4 linked regions of the Homo sapiens genome follow. The protein of the gene in region 3 interacts with the protein of the main gene of each other region in a pairwise test. Each region holds a gene or a part of one and is shown on either strand. Other genes may lie near its edges. The genes, in order: NEK6, ZNF250, ZCCHC7 and KIF9.

Evidence for each region.
Region 1: the proteins of ZCCHC7 (region 3) and NEK6 interact in binary tests that used the Homo sapiens proteins (3 or more experiments, as listed by UniProt).
Region 2: the proteins of ZCCHC7 (region 3) and ZNF250 interact in binary tests that used the Homo sapiens proteins (3 or more experiments, as listed by UniProt).
Region 4: the proteins of ZCCHC7 (region 3) and KIF9 interact in binary tests that used the Homo sapiens proteins (3 or more experiments, as listed by UniProt).

What each region holds. Positions count from the first base shown.
Region 1 is NC_000009.12:124,309,934-124,316,957, reverse strand, and holds part of NEK6 (serine/threonine-protein kinase Nek6), read right to left. Parts: intron 4,450-7,024; coding exon 4,309-4,449; intron 3,036-4,308; coding exon 2,973-3,035; intron 1-2,972. UniProt on the Homo sapiens protein: Protein kinase which plays an important role in mitotic cell cycle progression. Required for chromosome segregation at metaphase-anaphase transition, robust mitotic spindle formation and cytokinesis.
Region 2 is NC_000008.11:144,877,443-144,884,466, reverse strand, and holds part of ZNF250 (zinc finger protein 250), read left to right. Parts: intron 1-1,630; coding exon 1,631-2,952; 3' UTR 2,953-7,024. UniProt on the Homo sapiens protein: May be involved in transcriptional regulation.
Region 3 is NC_000009.12:37,115,708-37,123,579, reverse strand, and holds the start of ZCCHC7 (zinc finger CCHC domain-containing protein 7), read right to left. Parts: upstream 3,007-7,872; 5' UTR 2,957-3,006; exon of another isoform or gene 1,908-2,956; intron 1-1,907.
Region 4 is NC_000003.12:47,265,794-47,272,817, forward strand, and holds part of KIF9 (kinesin-like protein KIF9), read right to left. Parts: intron 5,669-7,024; coding exon 5,444-5,668; intron 1,471-5,443; coding exon 1,387-1,470; intron 1,276-1,386; coding exon 1,183-1,275; intron 85-1,182; coding exon 1-84. UniProt on the Homo sapiens protein: Essential for normal male fertility and for progressive motility of spermatozoa.

The sequences.
Region 1 (7,024 bases), about 87 Mb from region 3:
CCCCAAAAACTGCCCAGGTCATCAGCAGTCCAGGCATGACACAGTTTCTCCAACAAGGGAGAAATGAGAGGGGTTGGGTAGGAAGTAAAGCCCCATCAAGGAGGCGCTGGTTCCTGGGGAGGGGAGGAGGGAGACTCCTCCCCCATTTCCCTGCACGTCTGAGGGCAGGGGGTTAAGGAAGGGCTCCCTTAAATGCCCAGGCAGTCTACACAGGCACAGGCAGAAAGGGGCTCCAGACGTCCATTGGGCTAAATCGCCAAGGTCCAGAGAGGGGAAGGGATCAGCCACGGGTCCACAGCAAGCAGGGGCCGAGCTGAGTCTAGAACCTGGTCCACATGGAGTCCACTTCACAGCCTGTGGCCTCTTGGTGGGCCCAGGTGGGTCTGGAAGGGGACACACTTGGGTCAGGGACAGGGAAGGTGCTGCAAAGACGCAATGTGGTTGGGCTTTGTCTGGCTGTGGTGGTGGCCAGAGGGAAGGGAGGGAGAGCTGAGAGTAAGGGTCCCTGTCCTTTGAATCTCTGCCATCAGGGGCTCTGCTCCCAAGCTCCAGGCCCTCCCGGATGTAACACAGAGTGTCTATGATCTGTCTTCTCCACTGGGCTGCACCCTGGTGTCCAGCATTCAGTGGTGATCAGAAATTGCACAGAATGAATGAACACACGCCTGCGTTCCAACAGGACCCACCTTCTTGTCCCACGCTTGGCAGCTGCCGACCCCACCAGCCCCCGCACTTGAGAGGTTTTGGGTTTGGGTTCTTTGCATGAATGATGTGATATGTCAACAGTCACCCCTCCGAAAACCACGTTTCCTTTTGTTTTGTAGGAAGCACCTCGTGCCCTGGCACATCCTGTTGACTTCCCATGGGCTACCTGTGGAGTGGGACCCGTGTTCGGGAAGGCGGCTGGCATTGGCGGGCAGAGGTGGCAACCATGACAACTGGGCTGCCTTGGGCGGCGAGCGTACCACACACCAGCGCTGCCCTGAGCTCGTCAGACATGCTTCCTCACTGACTCCTCCAGCGTCCCTGTTGTCATCATGCCCCCTTTACAGATGAGGAAACTGAGGTCCTGAGAGGCCCATGGCTGGCCTGCAGCCACACAGCTAGTGAGCGAGGGGTGTGTCCTCTGAAACCCCGGCTTGGTGCCCTTGGCTGCATGGCAGCCCTGGAGAAGGGACCAAATCCCCTCTGCAGCCATGTGGGTTTACGCCAGGCTCAGGCTCCTGCAAGGCAGGGGCTGCGGTGGCACATCTGTGTGACCAGGGACCAGACCAGGCTGTGCTCAGCATGCTCACCTGTGGGTTCCTTCACTCGGGGAGAAGGGCACATGAGGTGGGGAGGGGGCAATGGGTGATCAGGACAAACATTCCTCAGGGCTGGGTAAGTGGCAGCAAGCTGACCATTACTTAAACATTTAAACAATGTTTTCGAGGGATATTTTTTGACCTATAATAGTTAGTGGTAAGGACACCTCCTGCCTCCAGCCTTGACTCCCTCACCCACTGTGGCCGGGGGCCACCAGAGCAGGCACTCACAACTCACACCCAGCCATGGCCCCCCGACTTGCAGCCACTTCAGGGGCTCCCCTTTTGTTCTGAGTGTGTATCTGGCTCTGCTGCCATGTCCAGCCTTCTGTCTCCCCAACCTCCCATAATCCACGGTGCTGCGGTGCCTGGAAGAAGGCTCACTTCGGCCTTCCAGATTCTGGGATGGTGCCCTGCCCTCTGTGAGGCCTGCCCAGGAAGCGGGTTTCCCTGGGGCTCCTGGCCCACCAGTCAATCTGCATCACCCTGGAAGGTCACCATCTGCTTCCTACCTGCTTCCCCACCAGCCTGGAAGTCCCCAAGAGCAGGGCCAAGGCCTGAGAACACAGGGCAGCGTGTGGCAGAAAAAACTGCTAATCTGAAATTCTGCAGCTGTGGCTTCGGCGGGCAGCCCTGCCACCAGCAGTCCCACTTTGCTGGAAACTGCCGAGCAAATCCAGTATGTTTCATGGGGGGCCGGGTGCGGTGGCTCCCGCCTGTAATCCCAGCACTTTGGGAGGCTGAGGTGGATGGATCACCTGAGGTCAGGAGGTTGAGACCAGGCTGGTCAACATGGTGAAACGCTGTCTCTACTAAAAATATGAAAATTAGCTGGGTGTGGTGGTGGGTGCCTGTAATCCCAGGAGACTGAGACAGGAGAACTGCTTGAACCGAGAAGGTGGGGATTGCAGTGAGCAGAGATTGTGCCACTGCACTCCAGCCTGGGCAACAAGAGCAAAACTCTGTCTCAAAAAAAAACAAAAGAAATAAAAAATAAAAATCAGGTGTGGTGGCATGCGCCTGTGGTCCCAGCTACTCGGGAGACTGAGGCGGGAGGATTGCTTGAGCCCAGGAGTTTGAGGCTGCAGTGAGCTATGATCATGCCACTGCACTACAGTCCAGGCAACAGAGTTTGCCTCTAAAATAAAAAAAAAACCCACCACCACCACCACCACCACCACTACCAACAAAACCAAAGAAAAAGGCTGAGAGGAGAGATGGAAAGAGGATGAGAAAGAGAAAAACAGGGAGACAGACATAGAGACAGAGGCAGAGCCAGACAGGCTGCAGTCTGGATGTGGTCCCCACAATGAACTCCTCCCCTAGCCAAGCCTGGTCCATAGGCCACTGCGAGGCAGGGTCAGGGCTGCCCTGTGGGGAAGGACTTCTATGCCGGGTACTGCCATGTACAAGCAGGAGGGGCGTGCAGCAAGGAGGAAAGGCTGTAGGCAGCGACCCCAAGGGCTGGGCAGAGCGATGAGGCGGGCCGCTCCTGCCTGGCCAGGAGAAAACTCACTAGCCGCTGCCCCTAGAAAGCTATCGTCTGTTAACTTAGCAGGGGCTGCGGATTCCTGGCACCCAAGGGCTGTGATGGACATGATGTGGCCCAGCCGCGGCCCCAGAACCTCCCCGAGGAGGCAAAGCTCCCGCTCGGCCCAGGGTGCTCACCTTCAAGAGGCCGATCTCCTTGACACAGTCCTGCCTCGCCTTGGCGTCCATCATCTCAAAGATCTTGGGCGGGAGGAAAAAGAGAAATAGAGTGGTTACAATCTGTGTCCAGTGACCCAAAGGAGGCCACGGGGTCTGCTTTCCAGTCCCGGCTCTCCCACCTCCTCACCAAGGGACTCTGTGACCCCCCCCTGCACTCCCAGCCCCTGTAGGGCTTGCTCACTGTGGGTCCCCCCAGCACTGTCCCACCACAAAACCCATCGTGGCACTAAAGAACCAAGACAGAGAGCCCAGGTGAGCCCCTCCCCAGAAGATGGAGAGGGCGGGCCAGGCACAGTGGCTCACACCTGTAATCCCAGCGAGGCTGAGGTGGGTGGATCACTTGAGGTCAGGAGTTCGAGACCAGCCTGGCCAACATGGTGAAACCCCGTCTCTACTAAAAATATAAAAATTAGCTGGGTGTGGTGGTGCACGCCTGTAGTCCCAGCTACTCAAGAGACCTAGGCAGGAGAATCGCTTGAACCCGGGAGGCAGAGGTTGCAGTGAGCTGATCACGCCACTGCACTACAGCCTGGGTGATAGACTGAGACTCTATCTCAAAAAAAAAACAAGATCAAGAGAGAAACTGGTCCTTTTTTGGACAGAGAGGACCCTGCTACTCCTCCAGCGCCCTGAAGCTGCGGGTGTTCTCTCCCCATTTCCCCAACGCCATTCTCTCTCCCGGCCCTCCTCTGCCCAGGCTCTCAATCTTGTTCTTTAAGGACAAGTAAGCAAATCAAGGGGCTTGGGAAGCTTTGCTGGAGGATTTAAAGCCATTTCCTCCGGCAAAGCTGTGTTCAGACGGGCCCAGCGGCTCTCATGGACATGGCTCCTGTCCTGACTTTGCCGCTTGACCTACTTCCTCCATTTAGGAGGGACGCAGAAGGCAGGAAGCCCAGAACTGTGGAGCAACCGCAGGCGCAAGGATGGGTGGACATGGTATGAACCTCAGCTCCCCCAAGACTCATGCTGGGGCCCTGGCGGTTATGAGATTTTCCTCATCTGAGAGATGAAATGACAATCCCCACCCACGGGACTGTTGAGAGGCTCCATGTGCTCCTTGCATGACCCAGTACACAGCAGGCGCTCAATGCATGCTCGTTTTTCTTTTCCTTTGCAGTTCACAGTGAACTTTCATCAATAGGAGTCCACCTGGTTCTCTCTGTAACCCAGTGAGTTGAGTGCTGTTTCCCTCGTTCACAGAAGAGGGGAGAGAAGGGACTGGCCCGGGCACCCCGTCCAGATGCAGAGACCACCTCCCGAGATGCAGGTTTGACCCCACGGGTTGTCAGCTCACCTGCACCTTCTTCAGAGCCACTGTCTTCCTGTCCAGCAGGCAGGTGGCCTTGTACACCTCGCTGAACTGTCCTCGGCCTATCTTCTTTTCGATCTGGAAGTCCGCCAGCGAGCAGCGAAAAGACAGCGTGTTGGGATGCCTCTGGAACGGGGGACAGAGGGCCTCCGTGAGCAGCCAGGCTGCAGCAGAGGCCTGGGGACGACCCCTAGAGGCCCAGCACCCCAACAGCACCCTCTAAGGTGAAGGAGGGACTCTGCTGCCAACCCTGCTCTGGGAGCCTCCCAGGCACCCCCCCAGGGGGCTTTCTGCACAGGGTCCCCTGGGTCCCCTCAAGGACCCCCAGTGCAGGTGAAAAACTGAGGCTGTTCATGCTCCCCACTGCCCTCATCACCACCTTCATTGTCTGACTGCTTGTTTGTTTGCTGTCTCTGAGTCCCATCCCTGGGGGCTAGCTCCGTGGGACCACGGGCGTTGCCCGTCTCATCCTCTCCTGAATCCTTGATGCCCAAACTGGGGTCCGGTAAGCCGGGTGCAGCTCATGTATCCCCAGCCCGTGGCCACCATGCAAAATGCCCCAGGTCATCATAAGAAATGGCAAGTTCCCTTCCTGGGGCAGCCGTTCCCCATCTCAGACAAGAAAACCAAGGTTAATATTCATAGCCTTGGCCAGGTGTGGTGGCTCACGCCTGTAATCCCAGCATTTTGGGAGCTGAGGCGGGAGTTCGAGAGGTCAGGAGTTCGAGACCAGCCTGGCCAACATGGCGAAACCCTGTCTCCACTAAAAATATAAAAATTAGCTGGGTGTGGTGGCCCATGCCTATAATTCCAGCTACTCAGGAGGCTGAGGCATGAGAATCGCTTGAACCCAGGAGGCAGAGGTTGCAGTGAGCAGAGATCATGCCACTGCACTCCAGCCTGGGTGATGGAGACTCTGTCCCCCTCTCAAAAAAATGTGCAGCCTTACACCCTGAGCCCATCCTTTAGATAAACTGCCTTTTTTAGGGTGTCGTGAAGAAACCAGAGCTCCACAAAGACTCTGCAGGGGCCAGCATTGGAACACATGATCCTGCGCTAGGACCTGCCCAGGGATGGAGCCTCCAGGTGAGACCACAGTGGCCAGGAGGACCCCAGGACACCTGTGCAGTGAGCTCTCAGGAAAAGGCAGGAGGGGGCGCCAACAGTGGGCCAGGGAAGGAGGAGACAGACAAGGGGAGAGGATGCCACATCTCTGGCCTGCCCTATGGTGAGATGGGCCCGGCTGTGTCTCCATTTGCCTGATGAGGAAACTGAGGCCCAGAGGGGCCAGCCATGCCCACATCACCCAGCTCCATGCCACCGCCCCTAGTGAAGCCAGAACAAGCAGTTCAACTTTCTAGCATGAAGTGGGTCTTTGGTGAGGGTCACACTGAGCCGGGCACCGTACCGAGGCGTCTTTAGGAGCCAGCACCCTGGCGGAAGGCATCAAGACCAAACCGAGAACTACAGGACTGGCCCTTCTGACAGCTGCTTCCCCACCTGGAAACACCAGGAACTGCTGGCCGGACCAGCTGCGTCTCAGCCTGAGATGCCTGCGGAGCAGGGGCACGTCTCCTGGGCAGGTCTAAGCTGGGTCCATCAACTTCTCCTCTGTCCTTCTCCCAGAGTGCCTGAGGGGAACCTGGTTATGTGGTGATCCCTACTCTGGGACCCTGAATCATGACTTAATGAATAATAGAAACTCACTGGAAAAGCAGGGAAAAAAGTAAAGTGAAAATGTCTCTTCTAGGCCAGGCGCAGTGGCTCACGCCTGTAATCCCAGCACTGTGGGAGGCCGAGGCGGGCGATCACTTAAGGTCAGGAGTTTGAGACCAGCCTGGCCAAAAAATTTTTGTAAAAACACAAAAATTAGCCGGGTGTGGTGGTGGGTGCCTGTAAATCCCAGCCATTTGGGAGGCCGAGGCAGGAGAATTGCTTGAACCTGGGAGGCGGAGGTTGCAGTTGGCCTAGATCGTGCTACTGCACTCCAGCCTGGGTGACGGTGAGACTCCATCTCAAAAAAAAGAAAATGTCTCTTCCAGATTTGGCTGAGGGAACTCTACAGAACACCCTCCTGCGGGAGTGAGTGATGGGAGTCCAGGCCTCACAGCACACAGCAAGGTGAGGGCTGGGCCAACCTTGACTTTGAAGCCTCGAGGCCTAATTACCTCTCATGGTGGGTCCTGCCAGAGGACCCGATCTGGAGGGCTGCTGGAGGAGGAAGATGATGATTTTATCCACCATGTGCCAATGTCTGTCGGGTAAATACACCTGTACACAGAGCACCCACCTAAGAAGAGCAGGCATCCTGAGTGTCTACTGCATGCTGGGCTCTGTGCAGACACCGCCCACGCGCCCACTCTTTGGGTCCTCAGAACAACCCTGTGAGTGGGCCTCACTGCTGTCCCCATTTCAGGAATCTGAGGCTTGGAGGGGTAGCAGTGACCTGTTCTGATCAGGCAGCAAAGAACAGCAGAGCTGGGGTGTGACCCCAGGACTGGGGACTGTGGTGCCCAAGCTCTTGCTCCGTATCGGGTGGGCTCTCAGCTCAGATCCCTCCTCGGCTTTTCACTCAAGACCCCCTGACCGGCCAGGCCTGCCACTTCCTGCTCCAGCCTCCATTCTTTCAGTCACCTGAGCCCTGCCCCAGGCCCCGCCCCAGGACCCGCCACCGGCCTCTTCAAAAGGGGGCCCCTGTCTA
Region 2 (7,024 bases), on a different chromosome or scaffold from region 3:
TCCTGGCCAACATGGTGAAACCCTGTCTCTACTGAAGATACAAAAAAATTAGCCAGCCATGGTGGCATGTGCCTGTAATCCCAGCCACTGGGGAGGCTGAGGCAGGAGAATCACTTCAACCCGGGAGGCAGAGGTTGCAGTGAGCCGAGCTCGTCCCATTGCACTCCAGCCTGGGCGACAGGGTAAGACTCCGTCTCTAAAAAAAGAATTATGTTCATAAACAGAATAGACATAAATAAACTATGGTATTTTAACTTAATGGAATATACTGCAGTGAAAATGATTAACTGCTGTACAACAACATGATGGATCTCAAAAACATAATGCTGACGGGAAAACGAGTTCCAGAAGACTGTGCTCCATGAAACTATAGAAAGCTCAGAAACACGCATAACTAAGTAAAATAAAATATAATAATGTTTAGAGCCAGGCACAATGGCTCATGCCTGTACTCCCAGCACTTTGGGAGGCAAAGGCGGGAGGATCATATGAGCCCCAAGCAGCTTGAGGCTGCAGTGGGCTATGATAGTAGCCACTGTACTCCAGCTTGGGTGACAGAGACTCCATCTAAAAAAAAAATCACTGTTGTCCTCAGCACCTCTTACCTCCCACCCACTCACACACAATCAGCCTGCAGAGCGCTCGACCTGCTCCCAGAAGAGTCTCCACCCCTGCCTTTCCCGCCATCTATGCTTCTGCTCCTGAAGGCCTCATCTGTGGCCTAAACTTGGCAGCAGATTCCCATCATGCCCCTCTGCACCTTCAGTCTTGTCCTTCCCTCCCCTCCTCCTGCCACTGCATTCTCCACATGAAATTATCTTCCACATGGCCAGGTCCGATGGTTCACGCCTGTAATCCCAGCACTTTGGGAGGCCGAGGTGGGTGAATCACTTGAAGTCAAGAGTTCAAGACCAGTCTGGCCGACACGATAAAACCCCATCTCTACTAAAAATACAAAAATTAGCCAGGCATGATGGTGTGCGTCTGTAATCCCAGTTACTCAGGAGGCTGAGACACGAGAATCGCTTGACCCCAGGAGGTGGGGGTTGCAGTGAACCGAGATTGTGCCACTGCACTCCAGCCTGGATAACAGAGCAAGGCTCCTTCTCAAAAAAAAAAAAAAAGAAATTATTTTCCACAAAGAGGTGGCAGCACCACCACCCCTACCTCATGTACAAGTCTGTTGGCCTCCAGATGGCACACCCCGACTTGCTCACAATAGCTCACACCTCTCCCTGCCTGCCCAAGTGCTGCTGTCTGCCCCACAAGGCACCCACATTATGTGGGCCTGTATTTCAGCTCTGTCCACATGAGGACCCCTGGGAGGGCAGGACTCAGGCACCACTGGGCTGTTTCCCTGCTGTTCTGTGGACTCCACACAGGGGTGTGACCTCAAACTGGAGTTTACACCTTTCTCTTAAAGCTTGCCTTGGCACCTTCCTGTCTGGAAACATTATCTTCTGATATCTAGTTGTTTGACACAGTTATGGTGGTTCTGTTCTTCTGTAGCTCACACCAACGTGTGCATTGAGGGATTTTGCACCTTCATCAGCAAGGCCAGTTTCAGGGTTGCACTAGCTCTTCAGTTTTGAGTAGTGTTAACATTTTCATTTTGGATTTGTTCTTTCAGAATGTGAAACCAAGGGAGAGAGTCAAAATACAGACTTGAGTCCGAAGCCATTAATTTCAGAGCAAACAGTGATTCTGGGGAAAACACCCTTGGGGAGGATTGATCAAGAAAATAATGAAACAAAGCAAAGCTTCTGTCTGAGTCCAAACTCTGTTGACCACCGTGAAGTTCAGGTCTTAAGCCAAAGCATGCCACTCACTCCGCACCAGGCAGTGCCTAGTGGAGAGAGGCCCTACATGTGTGTTGAGTGTGGGAAGTGCTTTGGCCGGAGTTCCCACCTCCTTCAGCATCAGCGTATCCACACTGGAGAGAAGCCCTATGTGTGCAGTGTATGTGGGAAGGCCTTCAGCCAGAGCTCAGTCCTTAGTAAACACAGGAGAATTCACACAGGTGAGAAGCCCTATGAGTGTAATGAGTGTGGAAAAGCCTTTAGAGTGAGCTCAGATCTTGCTCAGCATCACAAGATACATACAGGAGAGAAGCCTCACGAATGTCTTGAGTGTCGGAAAGCCTTCACTCAACTCTCACATCTCATTCAGCACCAGCGGATCCACACGGGAGAAAGGCCATATGTGTGTCCGTTGTGTGGGAAAGCCTTCAACCATAGCACTGTTCTGCGGAGCCACCAGAGGGTACACACTGGGGAGAAGCCTCACAGGTGCAATGAGTGTGGGAAAACCTTCAGTGTGAAGAGGACACTGCTGCAGCACCAGAGGATCCACACCGGGGAGAAGCCCTACACGTGCAGCGAGTGTGGGAAGGCCTTCAGCGACCGCTCAGTCCTCATTCAGCACCACAACGTGCACACCGGGGAGAAGCCCTATGAGTGCAGTGAGTGTGGGAAGACCTTCAGCCACCGCTCCACACTGATGAATCACGAGCGGATCCACACCGAGGAAAAGCCCTATGCATGCTACGAATGTGGGAAGGCCTTCGTTCAGCACTCACACCTGATCCAGCACCAGAGAGTCCACACTGGGGAGAAGCCCTATGTGTGTGGTGAATGTGGGCACGCCTTCAGTGCACGCCGGTCTCTGATCCAGCATGAGAGAATCCACACAGGTGAAAAGCCCTTCCAGTGCACAGAATGTGGCAAAGCCTTCAGCCTGAAAGCAACTCTGATTGTGCACCTGAGGACCCACACGGGCGAGAAGCCATATGAGTGCAATAGCTGCGGGAAGGCCTTCAGCCAGTACTCAGTGCTCATCCAGCACCAGCGGATCCACACAGGCGAGAAGCCCTATGAGTGCGGGGAGTGTGGGCGTGCCTTCAACCAGCATGGCCACCTAATCCAGCACCAGAAAGTGCACAGAAAGTTGTGACCCATGGCTGACACAAGAATCCATTCTCACAGAAACTGCATGTGGAACCACAAGCAGCCTTCAGCCCAAGAGAAGTCTCTGTTAACTCTATAGGAAGCTTTTCTTTGGCGATTCAGTGTCACAAAATAACTCCAGAAAGAAGCACTTAGCGTGCTGTTCCTGTGGAAAAACTTCAGAGACTACCTGTTTTATTTTCCTCAACATCTTGAAGTTATGTTGGAGAGTAATCATACAATTGTAGAGAATTTTGGTAAAAAACAGCCATAATTCTTTAACATTAGTTTATTTGAACTAAGGGAATTTAAGGCATAAGAACCATTATCCCAATAAAATCTTACATTCCAAATAAAGTTCTTTTTCTAAGAACATTACATGCCCTTCCTAAATATCAATTAACCATACTAATTATTGCACTTAAAATTTGAAAGTCGGACTATTTTCAGTATTCTCTTAAAAGACTAAAGTATTGTATGGATAAAGTGATATAAAAAGATATTTTCATCAAGCATCATGTAAAATGGTTGGAAATCCTAAGTGTGTGGATTTCCATCCTAAGTGTGTGGAGTCCTGTTTTGTATGAAACAAGGAAAAAGCTTATATATTAGTGAGAAATTACATAAATTTAAAAAACTTTTTGTATGTGTGTGTGGAGATAGTCTTGCTCTGTTGCCCAAGCTGCAGTGCAGTGGCATGATCTTGGCTCACTGCAGTCTCCGCCCCCACCCCAGGTTCAAGCTTTTCTTGTGCCTCAGTCTCCCAAGTAACTAGGATTATAGATATGCGCCACCACACCTGGCTAATTTTTGTATTTTTAGTAGAGACGGAGTTTCACCGTGTTGGCCAGGCTGGTCTCGAACTCCTGGCCTCAAGTGATCCTCCCACCTTTGCTTCCGAAAGTGTTGGGATTACAGGCGTGAGGCACCATGCCTGGCCTAGAAAACCCTTTATCTGGAGCTTTTAACTTTATTCAAGATCAGAAAGGTTATGCTAACTTTTTAGTAAAAATTCAACTCAAAAATGGGTATTTTCCTCAAAACTTGCCCTTATGACCTGCAGATCCTGTGCCCCAGAAACCGTGAGATGTCTCAATTCCCATGCAGGCAAAGGAGGGGAGCTTCACACTCAGCAGACCTCATAGCTGTTACACCAAGTGGGTACCTCTTTACATCTTATGGTATTTCCCCCAAAACAATGCTGAAAATACTGTTCTTTGGTAGATATATTTAAAACATACATTTCTCAAATTCAGATAGCTCTTTTTTACTATCTCTAGTATTTCTATTCCTATATTTGAAGGGGTTTTTTTTTTCATTTTTTTACTCCTGGTTCAAGAGTCCAGTATCCATTGCCATATTACTATGATGAAGATGAATCTAGTTTATTCATAATTAAAAATTTGTATTCAGAATTATTTGTTCTGTTTTAAGCATACTTTTTTTTTTTTTTTTGAGACAAAGTCTTGCTCTTGTTCCCCAGGCTGAAGTGCAATGGCACAATCTCAGCTCACTGCAATCTCCACCTCCCAGGTTCAAGCAATTCTCCTGCCTCTGCCTCCCAAGTAGCTGGAATTACAGGCACCTGCTACCACGCCCGACTAATTTTCGTATTTTTAGTAGAGATGAGGTTTCACCATGTTGGCCAGGCTGGTCTCAAACTCCTGACCTCAGGTGATCCGCCCGCCTCGGCCTCCCAAAGTGCTGGGATTACAGGCGTGTGCCACCGCACCCGGCCAAGGATACAGTTCTTGAAACCGAATCAGAACCATTTCTAGTAGCAGCCAGCTGCAAACGAAACAAATGTATGAGGTTCAAGCCACTTGAAATTCTCAACATGTTAAGTGCCTGAGATAGAGAAGGGCTGTCTTCACCCCAGGCCCCCGCCCCCAACATCTGTCAGTTTGGTGGGGAGGAAATAGTCACCAGGATATTGATCCTTTTTGTTTGTTTTAAAGACGGTCTTGCTCTGTCACCAGGTTGGAGTGCAGTGGTGCCATCATGGCTCACCGCTGCCTCAAACTCCTGGGCTGAAGCAGTCCTCCCACCTCACCTTCCCAAAAGGTTAGGATTACAGGCATGAGCTGCTGTGCCCATCCAGGCATTGATCCTTAAGTCCACAGCAAAACACCACGATGTAGACAAAAGCTTGTTCCCCCTTCTATGTACAGACACTGACAACAGTGAATTATTAACTCCAGAGAGGAACTGGTAACTGATTGGTTAACTTGAGAAAGGAGCTGACATCACTGGTGTTTTACTTCAGAGCAACTGAAACCACTGAAGTGAAATTCCAGAGGAACTAATATTACTGAGGTGTTACTTCAGAGGGACTGAGATCACTGAAGTGAAACCTCAGATAGCTCAGATAACCAAGGTGTTAACCTTAGAGGTGTTGCCATTCTGTGAGGTGTTGTTTCAGATAGATAAAATAACTAAGGTGTTAGTTCAGAGAAGACAAGAGCTTAACTGTTTCTTTGGAGAAGAGCTGAGATCACTGAGGCGTCACTTCAGAAAGAAAGTGAGACAATTTTTGTTACTTCAGAGGATCTGAGTACACTGAGGTGTTTCATCAGAGAGGAGGTGAGATCACTGGGTGTTACTTCTGAAAGGAATTGACATCACTAGTGGGTACTGCAGAGTAGCTCTGACCACTGAGGTTTACTTCAGAGGAGCTGAAATAACGGAAATGGGATCACTAAGGTATTACTTTAGAGATTAGATCATTGAGGTAATTCTTCAGAGAAGCTGAGATCACAGAGGTGTTTCTTCAGAGAAGTTGAAATCACTAATGTGAAACTCTAGAAGAATGGAGGTCACTGAGTGCTATTTCATAAAGGAAGTGAAATCACTATATTGTACCATCGGAAAGATGAGAATGCTGAGATGTTACTTAGGAGCTGAGATCACTGAGGTTCTGCTTCAGAGAAAAGCTGATACCAATGAGATGTTACTTAAGGGAGGAGCTGAGGTTACTGAGGTATTATTCAGGACCAAGATGGTGTCCCTCAGGTGTTAGAAGCTGAGATCACAGAGATGTTACTTAAGAGAGGCTGAGACTGCTGATGTGATTCTTCAGAAAGGAAATGAGATCACTAAGCTGTTAACTTTAGAAAGGAGATGAAATAACTGAGTTGTTCACTGGAGTTGAGATCACACAGGTGTTAACTTCAGAGGTGGCTGAAATCACTAAGGTGATTCTTCAGAGAAAGGTTGAGATCACTAGGGGTGATGCTTTAGAAAGAGGTTACTTTAGGGAAAAGCTATGATCACTGAGAAGTTACTTCAGAATGGAGCTGAGATCACTGAGGTAACAGTCCAAAGAGGAACTGAGATTACTGAGGTGTTACTTCAGAGCCAAGAGATCACCCAGGTACCTAGATGAGATCACTGAGATGAAAGTCCAGAAACCTGAGGTCACCTCAATATTAATTGAGAGAAAATGAGAACACTGTGGTGCTATCTTAAATCTTCTATGAAAGGAAGCTGCCAACCTGTGTTAGCTGAGTCCACAGCTGGCATGTGACTCAGTGGCAGCTGCTCAGTGCCCACTACTATTCAGGCCCCAATTTCTAATCATTAAAGACAAAGTCATATTCCAATTAAGATGAGAATAATTAAATTCAATATACAGGAACATTTGTTTAGAAAGACTGTGTATCACAGGACAACGTAAGTTACACAGTACAAGTTATTCTGGATTCCAATAACCTAGGGTTTTCAGGGAAATCCTTCCAAAAAGTATAGTTTTTTTCCTGCATTCTTAAAATGAGCTTAATATCATTCTGCCTGTTCTTGCTATGTCAGGCTGCCATTGATCCACTGGTGAGAATGCAGGCTCAGGTGTCCACGGAGCCAGGAAGTGGGCTTCAATGCCCTTCTTTCTGAGGAGGATTCCCAGGCTACATTTTCTTGCCACTCACCTCCTCCTCTCCAAGGAGAAAGAGGTGGCACATGACCTACTGGAACATGTGGGCTATCTACCTTTTTGGGATATAACATCAAAGGCCAGGGCCCTGAATTTTCATGCTGATAACAGTCTTCTCAACCATTATCTTCTGCCTGATTTGTCAGCAGCA
Region 3 (7,872 bases):
GAATAGAGCCATAGGCACACCTGTGAATGTATGCCAAAAATAAACTACAGAACCATAATAAAAACTGACTTCCTTGGGTCAAAGGATTTATCTCTTTCCCTGAAATGTAGAAAAATGAATTTAACAATTTAGCCCCTATGGCCTTTAAGAGGATTTTGTACCGTCTGTACTTGAAAATTGTGCTGGGCATAACGTGCTCTCTTATTTAGGTAGTTTATGTATGCCAGGGTTAAGGTCTGCCTAAGGTTGTTTTCGTTAATGTTACTGCTTTAATTACGTTCAAATGAATTTAATTTACCCTTTTAAAAAGTGTCTTGGAAGACAATATATGTTTTTTACACACACACGCACACGCACACACACACACACACACACACACACACACACACCCTTGACTCAGAAGGCTTTCTCAGCTTTTTTATCCCTGTACATGATTCCCAAGTATACTAACTAGGTAACAAAATCAGATTATCTCATACAGACTCCTCAATCTTCCCATCAGGAAACTGAAATACAAAGAGATAGGAAGCCTATTCAAGGTTATGCAGCTGGTTAAGAACACGGCTAGAAGTGATTCACATTTCTGTGATTCTCAGCCAACTGTTTACTAAAATTTTTAAACAAATTTCTTTTTTTCCCCCTTGAGACGGAGTCTCGTTCTGTCCCCCAGGTGAGAGTGCAGTGGCGCAATCTCGGCTCACTGCAACCTCCTCCTCCTGGGTTCAAGAAATTCTCCTGCCTCCGCCTCCCAAGTAGCTGGGATTACAGGCACGCGCCACCACGCCTGGGTAATTTTTGTATTCTTAGCAGAGACGGGTTTCACCATGTTGGCCAGGCTGGTCTCGAACTCCTGACCTCGTGATCCGCCCCACTCGGACTCCCAAAGTGCCTGGATTACAGGCGTGAGCCACCGCACATGGCCCAAAATAAAATTTTCAAATAAGTTAACTTCAAATTAAGATTTTTTGAAGAAAAACCTTCCTTCATTGCAATATTTGCATTGGTTCTAACACCTAAATTTACCTCACAAATATCCATTTTATGTCCCAGCAGAGTTTAAAAACTAAATGAGACATTTTAGGTGTAAGGAAAACACACGTTTGTCAGTTTGCCATTTAAGAATCTCCCAAGTTGGTACTCAAAAACTATCAATCCCATGACCAGAAAAGATGTTTCCTATATAACATCTTAAAATATCATGCAAATGAAACTTATCTAAGAATTAAAATACCTTAACAAATATAAAACAGCTATAGAATAACTGCAAAGGCTATTACCATTCAAAAGAGGGAGCAGTATTCATTGACTGAATTGTTTTAAACTAGACAACTTAAGGCTTATTTAAGCTTTCAGCATTTACTTAACACAGTCTTTAATCAATCCTTCTGCTCTCACAGTCTACCTACTGGTCATTCTGACCTTTTGCTCTTATTTACTTCCAAATATCTTTAGCCTCCCTAGATGTTCCTTCTTGATGACACACGCATCCATCTCCGGCCGATTTAAATCAAATCCACAGCCTCATTTTCAGTCCAATTTTCATTGGAATGTGATGAATACACTTTACTTTCAAAGTAAAATTTTTCTTACTCTTAGTAAGCTGCCCTGACAGGACAGTTGAAACACAATTGTCTAAAGGGTTAAAATGTCTGTCCATTTTTCAAATGCGATGGCCACTCTGAATCAAATCTGATTGGGATGGAGAATCCAAATGTGTAAAACAAAAGTCACAAAAGACAAACAGAGCACAGTATTTCAGTGGGGGAAAAAAAATAAGCTAAATTTAGTCACTTAAGTCCCAGCTCTTCTTGGGATATATATATGATTTTTACGAGAACTAATCCTATCCGGAAACATTTCCTTCACCTTTCCCTTAGCCCTTTTCCTTCGGTCATGCAGTCTCTTACCGTGCTAATTATCATATTAATATAATCCTCACTTGCGATCCTTCCTGACTTTATTCCCCATGCTCAGATTCTCCTGAAAGCATAACGCTTTCCTAAGTATACACACAATCCATTTAAAAGTCTTTGTATGCGACAGCCTAACTATTCAAACACGAAGTCATTTCTCTAACGGTCCTAGAAAAAATTTTAAAAAGAAAAAGAAAACCACAAAGTCAAGAGCTTCTGAGGGGACCTGAAAAGTCATCAAATTGAACGCTCTCGTTTTATAGTTGGAGAAAGGAGCTCAGAGAAACTTATTCACTGAGCTAAAAAGGCCCTACTAATGCAGCCCGTAATTCAACTGTGCAATCTGAAATAATCTTAAATTCAGCTTCAATAAGAGCTTTCTGGAATCGCCAGCGAATCCGTGGGGGAGCCACGGCTAGAACCCAGGCCTCCTGATTCCCAGCCACAGCTTTTCCACCGAACCAGCAGCTCTTCCCAAAAGTTGAAGGCAACTGTCCGCTCACAGGATGGGAGGGATAAAGGGCGCCTTAGTAAACACAGTCCAAGTCTACTCGTTTTACATGAGGAAAGGGTCACAGCTCCCGAAATTTTGGATTCTACTGCTGCAGCTGCTGCTTCTGACAGCAGAGGCGGGAGGTGGCCCAGGACTACTCGGTCCTCAAAGACTGGACTCTCTCTCGGCGCGCCGGGACCTCCGCGCTTCACTGACTGGCTTCCCTAGAAGACTGGGGGCCTTGCGGGGAAATAAAAAGGGCAGACACGCCACCCTCACCGAGGCCCTAGACGCCCAGCCGCTCTAGAATCACGGCATTAGCCCTTGGAAAGCCAGGGAGACGCGGACCCCCTAGACCCGCAGCCCGGCCGCGTGGGGCGGCGCGCAGGTGACGGACCAGGAGCTGCGCCCTGCCACGAGTGAGGGGCGGACGGGAGACGTCGAGGCCGGCGAGGGGGCACGCGCTAGTTCCACAGCCCGGCGGGCAAGAAGGAGGGTAGGCAGGGGTCCCGAGCCGCGGGCGGCGGGGGTCCGTCACACACATACTCACTGCCGCAGCTGCGAACAGGAAGCACCAACCGGGAACCAAAACGCGTAGAGGGACGGGGAGGGGCGAGGACAAATGAGGTAAGGAGGCCGCGTCCGCGCAGACCCGGGAGGGAAGGCACTTCCGGGGACAACACAGCTCTAGTCACCGCCTTTCCGTCCCCGCCCACCTGCCGCGCCTGATGTGCGCATGCGTAGTGGGTGCGAACCGTTCTCTGCCCCGCCCATAATTATTAGGTTTGCCTTCCTTGCTTTCCCCCTTCCCCTTCCCAACTTCTCTTGAAGCTACCTAGGCTGCATCTATTATTTGAATGACTCGTACGAAGGAGATGCTATTTACCGGGCAAAAGCCGGGGAGTTCGTGCCCTCTACCCCCGCGAGGAAAACTACAACCCCCATGAGGACACGGGCGAGGTTGAGGCCGGGCTCCGCCTCCTTCTCCCTGGCGCTCGGTGGACGCCTTCTCAGTGCCACGTGGCGCGGGAGCCTAGCTGATCGCGTGCATGACGAGGGCCAGCGTGGCTGGCTGCTTGGCCCGCAGACCTGGGCAGCGGGAAACGCGTACTTGAGAGCGCATGGCTTCAAGCTTCTCCCTTGCGCTCATGATCTTAGGCTGGTCGCTTTTTCTTTTAGGCGGAACACAGTTCACACTGGGCGCCTCCAACTCTCTGGAATTCTAGGCAACAGATTAACACTTTGTGAATCTCGAAGAGCTGCACTCCTGCTAAATATTGGAGTTAATGCTGATCCTTTGGAAGTCTCTGAAGGTTGCAAGATTGTGCTGGGAGCCTCTGGCTTCATTTGCCCTTCTCACACCTTATTTTAATACAAGGTAAACCCATCTGTAGAACTTTAGAAATAACTGTCGACCTAAAGGAAAAACTGAGGCAAAGTTAATATAAGTGGAGAATTTATTTGGGCCAAGTTTGATGAGGGCAACCTGGGATCATCAATTCAAGTTGCCCTTAATATGTGATCCGATAAGCAGCAGTTTCAACTGAGTTCTTTGTCTTGTGAAGCTCCAGGCTTAAAGGTATCGATCCTCCCACCTCTGTCTCCCAAAGCACTGGGATCACAGGCATGAGCCATTACACTTCTTGTAGCAGCTACGAGTGAATTTTTTTCTTTCTTTATGGTTTTTTTTTTTTTTTTTTTTTTTTTTTTCCTGAGACGGAGTTTCGCAGTTGTTGCCCAGGCTGGAGTGCAATGGCGCGGTCTCGGCTCACTGCAACCTCCGCCTCCCAGATTCAAGCCATCCTCCTGCCTCAGCCTCCGAAGTAGCTGGGATTACAGGCGCCTGCCACCACGCCCAGCTAATTTTTGTATTTTTAGTAGAGTCGGGGTTTCACCATGTTGGCCAGGCTGGTCTCGAACTCCTGGCCTCGACCTGCCAAAGTGCTGGGATTAGAGGCGTGAGCCACCGCGCCCGGCCACGAGTGAATTTTTAAAGGAAAAAAGAAGAGGCTTTTGCTAAACTACATACCAAGAATTGACACTAAAATAACATAAGCTATCCATTGGCTACACATTGTTCTTTCTATCACAAATTTTAGGAACACGAAGATAAAGGGTGATGCAGGTACTGGGAAGAAAAGAACAAAATGCCTTTAAACAATTGCCACACACCCCTACCCCCCACCCCCACCCCCACCACCACCTACATGGGATGGTGCTAACTGAAGTACCATACTCAAGTCCCTCTGGGCCTGATAAAGTTTGAATGCCTGCCTGGCTAATGGGGTAGCTCTCACCTGTTTGGGAGCCCGAAGTGGGAGGATAGCTTAAGGCCGAGAATTCGAAACCAGCCGGGGTAATATAGCAAGACGCTGTCTCTACAAAAAAATTTAAAAATTTAAAAATTAACTGGGCGACTGGGCGCAGTGGCTCACGCCTGTAATCCCAGCACTTTGGGAGGCCGAGGCGGGCGGATCACCTGAGGTCAGGAGTTGGAGACCAGCCTGACCAACATGGCGAAACCCCGTCTCTAGTAAAAATACAAAATTAGCCGGGCGTGATGGCGCATGCCTGTAATCCTAGCCACTCCTGAGGTTAAGGCAGGAGAATCGCTTTAACCCGGCAGGCGGAGGTTGCAGTGAGCCGAGATTGCGCCATTGCACTCCACCCTGGGCAGCAAGAGAGAAACTCCGTGTCAAAAAAATAATAATAATAACAGGGCGTGGTGGCCCACACCTGGAGTCCCAGCTGTTCCTGGCTGAGGTTTGAACTGCGGAGGTCTAGGCTGCAGTGAGCCGAGATCGCACCATTGCACTCCAGAATGAGACCGTCTGAACAAAAATGTTTAAAGCTCAAGCAAGGTGCCTCATGGCTGTAATCCCAGCACTTTGGGAGGTTGAGGCAGGTGGATCGCTTGAGCTCAGGAGTTGGAGACCAGCCTGGGCAACATAAGAAGACCCCATCTATATTTAAAATAAGATCCTTTTCTTAATTAAAAAATTATATAAAAATAAATTTAAAAAAACAAATCTTTTTATAAAAATAAAAATAAATAAGAAATTTTAAATAGTAAAAATTAGCCAGGCGTGGTGGCACACAACTGTATTCCTAGCTACTAAGGAGGCCAAGGTGAGAAGATTGCTTGAGCCTGAGAGTTCAAGGTCATAGTGAGCTGTGATCACACCACTGCACTCCAGCCTGGATGAGAGACCCCATATCTTTAATTTTTAAAAAAATTATTTTTGCATACCTTTAACGTAACTTAGACTGCTCTGAACTATTTTTCTCCTCTCATAATGACACACTGCCAATTCATTGGCCTATTTCAATTCTCCTCAAGACAAGTGTGAGTTTGATTGTTTTCACCAACGTTTATTGAACATCTATCTGTTAAAAGACGGTGTTAGAAAGTGCAGAAAAGCTGTAAATTTTTAAGTCACTGATCTCATAGAGATAGGCATCTAGCTAGGAAAACAGTTATAGTCTAGGAGTTTGGCCAGAAAAGAATTAGAACATTTAATTAACATTATGGGGTAAGTGCTGGGAAGGAGAAGGACAAGGTACTATGAAAAGGTAAAATTGGAGAACCACTTTCCAGAAAAGAAAACAGGCATAGAAGCACATCACAGATGACTAGATTGTTTGTTTTGGTAATATGTATTGTGTAAAACAAATGTCACCTTTTTAAAAATTTAAAAATATATTGCCAGGATTACTCCTGTCCATCTATTATAATATTTTAAATTTCGACAACACTTTGTGGATTTTTTTTTTTTTTTTGAGAAAGGGTCTTGCTCTGTCACCCAGGCTGGAGTGCAGTGGTGTAATCACAGCTCACTGAAACCTATCTCCCAAATGATGCTCCCGCATTAACCTCCCAAGTAGCTGGGACTAAAGGCACACACCACCATGCTGAGTTAATTATTTTTTTAATTTTTAAAACTTTTTTGTAGAGATAGGGTCTCCCCGTATTGCCCAGGCTGGTCTCCAGCTTCTGGGCTCCAGGCCTCAAGTGATCCCCCCACCTCAGCCTCCCAAAGTCCTAGGATTACAGGCATGAGACACTCAGCCCCACCAATACTTTCAAGTTGATGTTTTAAGTTCCAATTTCACACACACAAAAAAAGAAAAGAGGCGTAGAAAGGCTAAGTAAAACTTATAGAAGGCCACAAGTATAGGAAATAATAGTTATGTGCTTCATAATGACATTCCACTCAAAACCAGACTGCATATATGATGATTATTTTATCATATTTTTACTGTACCTCTTCCATGTTTAGATGCACAAATACTTATTGTGTTATAGTCACCTACAGTATTCAGTACAGTAACATGTAGCAGTTTGTAATCTGGGAGCAATAGGCTACATCATGTGGCCTAGGTGTTTACTTGACTATACCATCTAGGTTTGTGTAAATATGCTCGATGAAGTTTGCACAATGAAAAAATCACCTAACAATGCACTTCTCAAAACTTATCCCCATCATTAAATGACACGACTGTACTCCTAATTACCATGTCCCATCTTCCCACTGTCACACATGCATTCAACAAAGATTTACTGCTTTCCCATGCTCAGAATGCTTCAGCCTACCCCTTTAGTTTATGTCTTCAAACCTAGAGTCCTTTGGATGGCATAAAAGGCACTTCATGAGCTGACATCTGCCTACTGTTGACGCTGAATCCTGGGCAGTTGCCAGAACACACCATGCCCTCCCACACCTGTGCCTTTGCAGAGAACACTCCACTGCCTGTAAAGCCCTTCTCCCTGTCCTTCTAACATATACCCACTCACCCTACTCTGCTGAAGTTTTGGGTCTTCAGGGAAACTTTCCACCTTAGCCTCTCTCCACATACACAGCATTTCTCTTTCTAATTGAAGCTGTCTCTACTCCCCATTTCTCCTTTTTATTTTATTTTATTTTTTTTTTGACGCAGGGTCTCACTCTGTCACTCAGGCTGGAGTGCAGTGGTGTAAACACAGCTCACTGGAGCCTCAACCTCCTGGGCTCAAGAGATCCTCCCACCTGAGCCTCCCAAGAAGCTGGGACTACAGGCGTGCATCACCACACTGCACCTGGCTAATTTAAAACTATATACATTTTGTAGAGATGGGATCTCGCCATGTTGACCAGGCTGGTCTTGAACTGTCTCAAGCAGTCCTCCCGCCTCAGTGTGAACCACAGTGCTCAGCCCCTACTTCTTGAAATCATGGGTGACAGCATGCACAAATATCCTGAAGTCTTTCTTACAGAGTATCTTCTAAAGAGACCAACGTTTATTTTATTTATTTATTTATTTATTTATTTATTTATTTATTTGAGATGGAGTCTCACTCTATCACCCAGGCTGGAGAGCAGTGGCGCGATCTCGGCTCACTGCAAACTCCTCCGCCTCCCGGGTTCACGCCATTCTCCTGCCTCAGCCTCCTGAGTAGCTAGGACTACAGGCACCCGCCACAACGCC
Region 4 (7,024 bases), on a different chromosome or scaffold from region 3:
GTCCCCAAGGGCAATGATGGCCTGCTCCAGGAATGAGAGCGATTTGTTGATGTAGGTGGCTTCCTTCAGGACTTGGCCCTCAGACTACAAAGCAAAGGTCAGTTCCACTTTGGATGGAATAAAGCAGCTGCCCCACTAAGAATAGCAGTCTTCCTGGTCTGGAGAAATGCTATAAGTCTGTGGTCAGGTCAGCGCCTCCTTCCCAGAACCAGGGTCTTCTTTCAATGTCATGCGATTGTATTCCATCTTGGGCTAATAATGGTAATACCAAAACTCAGAAATATTCATGTGAACACTCATGTGAATACTCATGCGAATGTGAATGCTTACATGAATATTCATATGGACATTCACTCAAAGATTCACACTAATATGAATATGTACTGAAATACTTGTCTAGATATTTGAGCAAAGAATCCTGTGAATATTCACACAAACACTCATGAATGCACATACAAATGCTCATCTGAATACTCTTGTTAATACTTCTGCTAATACACTCATACAAATATTTATTTGAAATACTCATGCAAATACTCATACGAATACTCATATTCATTCACAAAGAAGCCAGGTGTGGTGGCTCACACTTGTAATCCCAGCACTTTGGGAGGCCAAAGCAGGAGGATCGCTTGAGCCCAGGAGTTCAAGTTCAGCCTTGGCAACATAGCGAGACCCCGTCTCTACAAAAAAATTTAAAAATTAGCTGGTCATGGTGGTGCATACCTGTGGTCCCAGATACTTGAGACACTGAAGTGGGATGATCACTTGAGCCTGGGAGGTCAAGGCTGCAGTGAGCTGTATTTGTGCTACTGTACCCCAGCCTGGGAGACACGGCGAGACTGTGTCTCAAAACAACAACAACAAAAACACACACAGAGAAATGCTATACCAGCAAGGAATATTTACTGAGCACTGAGTGCCAGGCACTTTGCTAAGAATGTAGAGGGCACTATCTCATTTAATGTTTACAAAAATCCTCTGAGGTAGGAACCGCCCCCAGGTAATAGCCGTTCCCTTTTTGCAAATCCTGTCCCTCCAGCAAGCCCACATGTCCCACTTCGCCTAGCTCAGGACTGTGTTCACAAATATCCAATGAGTCATGGCCCAGATGTGCAGGCACTGTGCCAGAAAAAGGGCTTGTGGTTTATTGAGTAGCAACCTCCAGCCCCCATCACTTACCCCAGACTTCCCCAGCCTCTCTGAGCCTGCCAGATCCACCAAGTTAATTTTGGAAGTGATGTACTTTTCCTCTGATAAGGTCCGGGAATGGGCCTACAAAACATCCAAGCAGAAGTTAGACTGTCACAGGGAGAAGTTTCTGACTGAGCAGGCCCCGTGGGAATTGACTGCCCCGCCTGGGCTGATCAAAGAGCTTGCACCTACCTCTAAGTAGATGGTGAAAATGCAGTGTGATCTGGAAGAGTTTTTGTTCATAGTGTGGGAGGCTATAATCCTGTTGGTCTCACCCTGAAGAGGAAGGGAATCATAGGCAACATTTCGAAAAACTAAAACGACAAGGCACTTGGGTCATTTTTCAATTATACCAATAGCTACACAAGTGGTCTCATATCACTGCGATCAGCTGGGCCTTCCAGGCAAACCTCTTTTATAAACTAATAGAAAGGGAGTCAAATTGGAGTCCACATCTACACTTTCACCCGCCGCTGGGGAAGTGTGAATTGGTATAGCTTTCTGGAAAGCAAAGTGACAATAAAAATCAAGAGCCTTAAAAATGTTTATGAATATTGAATCAGAATCAACCTGCATGTCCAACAATTTGGGAATGATCTATGTATACAGTGGGATATTGGGCAGCCAGGAAAATGCTGACACATAGTTTTTAATAACAGAGAGAAATGTAGAATCCAAAATCATATTATAGCTGATCTAAGAAATGCAAAAGCATTCATAGAAGAAATAAGCAGAATTCTGCTAATAAGATGTTAATAATAGTTGCTTCTGGGTTGGGGTTTATAGGTTATTTTATCTTTTTTATACAGTTTTGTGGGTTTTTTTTAGTGAGCATGTATTACTATAAAAATAATAATTTATATTTTTATTTATTTTGTGTTCTCCTTTTTTTTTTTTTTTTTGGGAGAGCATCTCAGTCTGTCACCCATACTAGAGTGTGGTGGCACGATCTCGGCTCACTATAACCTCTGCCTCCCGGGCCCAAGCCATCCTCCCACCTCGGCTTCCTGAGTAGCTGGGACTACCAGCGTGCACTACCACACCTGGCTAATTTTTGTATTTTTTGTAGAGACAGGGTTTCACCATGTGCCCAGGCTGGTCTGGAACTTATGAGTTCAAGAGATCTGCCCGCCTCGGCCTGCTACAGTGCTGGGATTACAGGCATGAGCCACTGTGCCTGACCTAGTAATTTGTATTTTTAAAGGGACAGTAGGCCCTTACCTCTAATTTACAGGAGGAGGCCTTATGACCAGAATATACTTAAAAAGGAATTTTTTGTAGAGACAGGGTGGTGGTGTGGTGGAAATGGCTGTTCTTGGAGAAAAAGGTCCTTGAGGGATAGACTGATGTCTCCTTAAATGCTGATGAGAAGTGCTATGAACAAGCCCCAAAGTGAGGGTGGGGGACAGCCCCCCCTGGGGAGAGGAGAGCACCCGCTGAAGAGGGAAGGCCTGAGGCTGTGGAGCAAGCCTAGCAGACTCCTGTGGCCATACCTCTATAGCTTATAGTAGTGAGGCTATAGTCTATGGTCAGGCCTGTTCTACAAATCCAGTGACACTCACCAAGAATATAAGGGGTCACTTCATTTTTCTTCTTCTTTTTTTTTTTTTTTTTGAGATCATTCTCACTCTGTTGCCCAGGCTGAAGTGCAGTGGCGTGATGTTGGCTCACTGCAACTTCTGCCTCCCGGGCTCAAGTGATCCTCCTACCTCAGCCTCCCAGGTAGCTAAAATCACAGGTACAGGCCACCATGCCAGGCTAATTTTTTATATTTTTTTGTAGAGACAGGGTTTCGCCATGTTGCTCAGACTGGTCTTAAACTCCTGAGCTCAAGCAATCCTCCTGCCTTAGCCTCCCAAAGTGCTGGGATTACAGGCATGAGCCACCACAGCAGGTCATTCACCTTTACTCTTCAGTCCCCCTTCTGAAGTACCCTCTTGCCTTGTCTTTCTTTTTTTGTATTTTTAATAGAGAGGGGGTTTCACCATGTTGGCCAGGCTGGTCTCGAACTCCTGACTTCCAGTGATCCGCCTGCCCCGGCCTCCCAAAGCTCTGGGATTACAGGTGTGAGACACCGCGCCTGGCCTTGCCTTGTCTTTCTGGCCCTTTAAAAAAGATCCTGCTATTGACGTTGAGGAAGTAAGTTGCTATGTTGTGAGAAGGCACTATGATCATGCCTGTGAATAGCCATTGCACATGTGCCCATTGCCTGGGCAACACAGCGAGAACTTGCATAAAAAAATAAAGAGTTCCTAGCCTATATGACTTCTAAAAGAATAACATACACTTGACTGATTTCTTTTCTTGTTTTTGAGACAGAGTGTTGCTCTATTACCCAGGTTGGAGTGCAGTGGCATGATCTCAGCTTACTGAAACCTCTACCTGCTGGGCTCAAGTGATTCTCCCACCTCAGCTTCCCAAGCAGCTGGGACCACAGGCATGCGCCCCCATGCCTGGCTAATTTTTGTATTTTTGGTAGAGGTGGGGTTTCACTGTGTTGCCCAGGCTGGTCTTGAACTCATGAGCTCAAGTGATCCACCCGCCTTGGCCTCCCAAAGTGCTGGAATTACAGGCGTGAGCCACTGTGCCAGTGCATTTGACTGGTTTCTAAGAGCCTTTATTTTATTTTTTTGAGATGGAGTCTTACTCTATTGCCCAGGCTGGAGTGCAATGGCTTAATCTCAGCTCACTGCAGCCTCTGCCTCCTGGGTTCAAGCAATTCTCCTGCCTCAGCCCCCCGAGTAGCTGGGATTACAGGTGCCCACCACCACTCCCAGCTAATTTTTTTTTTTTTTTTTTTTTTTTTTGAGATGGAGTCTCCCTCTGTCGCCAGGCTGGAGTGCAGTGGCACAATCTCAGCTCACTGCAACCTCTGCCTCCCGGGTTCAAGCTATTCTCCTGCCTAAGCCTCCTGAGTAGTTGGGAGTTAGCGCCACCACATCCAGCTAATTTTTGTATTTGTAGTAGAGACGGGGTTTCACCATGTTGGCCAGGATGGTCTCAATCTCCTGATCTTGTGATCCGCCTGCCTCCGCCTCCCAAAGTGTTGGGATTACAGGCATGAGCCACCGTGCCCAGCCTAATTTTTGTATTGTTAGTGGAGATGAGGTTTCACCATGTTGGCTAAGCTGGTCTCGAACTCCTGACCTCAGGTGATCCACCCACCTCAGCCTCTCAAAGTGCTGGGATTACAGGCATGAGCCACCGCACCTGGCTCTAAGAGCTTTTGTATAGTAAGGATGCTAATTCTTATTTTTCTCTTTTTCTTTTCTTTTTTTTTTTTGAGAAGGAGTTTTGCTCTTGTTGCCCAGGTTGGAGTGCAATGGTACGATCTTGGCTCACTGCAACCAGTGCCTCCCGGGTTCAAGTGATTCTCCTGCCTCAGCCTCCCTAGTAGCTGGGATTACAGGCACCCGCCACCACACCCAGCTTATTTTTTGTATTTTTAGTAGAGATGGGGTTTCACTATGTTGGCCAGGCTGGTCTCAAACTCCTGATCTCAGGTGATCCACCCACCTCAGCCTCCCAAAGTGCTAGGATTACAGGCATCACCCACTGCACCCGGCCTTATTTTTTTCCATACAAGAGCTCATAATTTAACTGAAAAAAGGGACATAAGAATCATTTCAACTATGTAAAGAAAAAGCTGCACAGGAAAAAAGACTGGAAGGAAATGAGCTAAAATATACATTATTGTTGCCTTATGTAAAAAACAGATTATGCATGAATCATTTTTTCTTTTTATTTACGTAACAGGAAAGGAAGAGGAAATAAAATTCTTTTTTGTTCCTTTTTTTTTTCAGCACTATCTGAACTTGCTAAATGTGCATATATTAATTTCCATTCTGATAATCAAAGTAAGTAAAAAACTAGCTGGACACAGTAGCTTGCCTGTAATCCCTGCACTTTGAGAGGCCGAAGTGGGAAGATCGCTTGAGCCCAAGAGTTCAAGACCAGCCTGGGCAACATGGCCAGACCTTGTCTCTACAAAAAAAAAAAAAAAAAAATTAAGTGGGCATGGTAGCATGCTCCTGTGGTCCCAGCTACTTGGGAGGCTGAGGCAGGAGGATCACTTGAGCCCAGGAGGTCGAGGCTGCAGTGAGCCATGTTCATGCCAGTATACTCCAGACTTGGAGAAAAACCAAGATCCTGTCTCAAAAAAAGAAAAAGAAAAAGAAAAAGAAAAGCTGAGAAGGAGGGTGGCAGGGAGGGAGAGAAGGAAAGGAACCCTCAGGTTTTATTATCTCACCTCAAAAAGGAGGCTGAATGCATCCTCCTCCTGACTTGTGAGGTGAACTGACAAGCCCTTAATGAAGACTCCTTGAGGGTTTTCCACGATGGTCATTGGTGTGACTGAGGGTCCAACATAGGGCAGAGTGGACAGGAGATCAAACAGGCTCTCATTATAGATTTCCAAGTAGGAAACACGCACAGTGATGGCATGTGTGGGGCGTTCTTCGATCATCCTAAAAACCTAGATGACAGATTGTACAGCGGTCACCAAGAGCAGAACCCCAACAGCCAACTAGCATAAGGGGGGCTTCCTAACTCAGAAGGGAACATCAAGATGTATAGAATAATTATTGTCCTAAAGGAATTGGGTGATATTTAGTATCATCTTGTAGTGTTTTGAGGCTTGACATCAGATTGGCTAACACTTAAACCATCTCACGAAGTAGAGGCATAATGAGTGGAAAGGACTCTGGAGTGAGGATTTCTTATTTTAGAGTCTCATCATTTATATGCCTCTTTCAAATCTATTTAATTCCATCCACATATAAATCTCTGTGAATGAGGCAGTGCAGGAGCAATACGTATTTGTGGAAGGCACTACAAAATAAAATTATTTGTCAGCCGGGTGTGGTGGCTCACACCTGTGAGCCCAGCACTTTGGAAGGCGGAGGTGGGCAGATCATGAGGTCAGGAGATCGAGACCATCCTGGCCAACATGGTGAAACCCTGTCTCTACTAAAATTACACAAATTAGCTGGGCGTGGTGGCGTGCGCCTGTAGTCCCAGCGACTCGGGAGGCTGAGGCAGGAGAATCTCTTGAACCCAGGACGCAGAGCTTGCAGTGAGATGAGATCACGCCACTGCACTCCAGCCTGGGTGACAGTGAGACTCCATCTAAAAAATAAATAAATAAATAAATAAATAATTTGTCTATTGGTCACTCAGCTAGTAAGGGTAGAAGTAAAGCCAGAACTCAGCCTTCTCAACTCCTAATTCCCTCCCCAGTGCTTATCAAGGAAGGGATAATTCCTGAGGTCCTGCCTTCCTCTAAGAATTTAGACCGGTTTTGTTCAAAATAGTAGACACAAGTTACAGATGGCTGCTGAGTATCTAAAATGTGGCTAGTACAAATGAACTGAATTTTAAATTTTATGTAATTTTAATTACAGTTAGATTTAAAAACTGATGCAATTCAGTTATTGGTAAACTTTAAGTATGTCTGGAACAACTTGGGTATGTAAATCTACTTTTTCAACATTTTATGAAATCTAAATACAGATCAAGCATTTCTGATAATATTTATGCCTAAACTGAAATGTGCCCCAAGTATAAAATATGTACTGGATTTCAAAGACTTAGTATGAGAAAAAGAATGTAAACTATCTCAATAAGTTTATATTGATTACATGCGGAAATATTTTAAATATATTTAGTTAAATAAAATATATCATTAAAATTAATTTCATCTGTTTATTTTTACTTTTTAAAATGTGGTTACTGGAAAACTCAAATTTGCATGTGACTTACAGTATATTTCTATTAGTGGCACTGGGCTAGATTACTAAAGTCTAAGATGCTGAGATACTGAAGCTTTGAC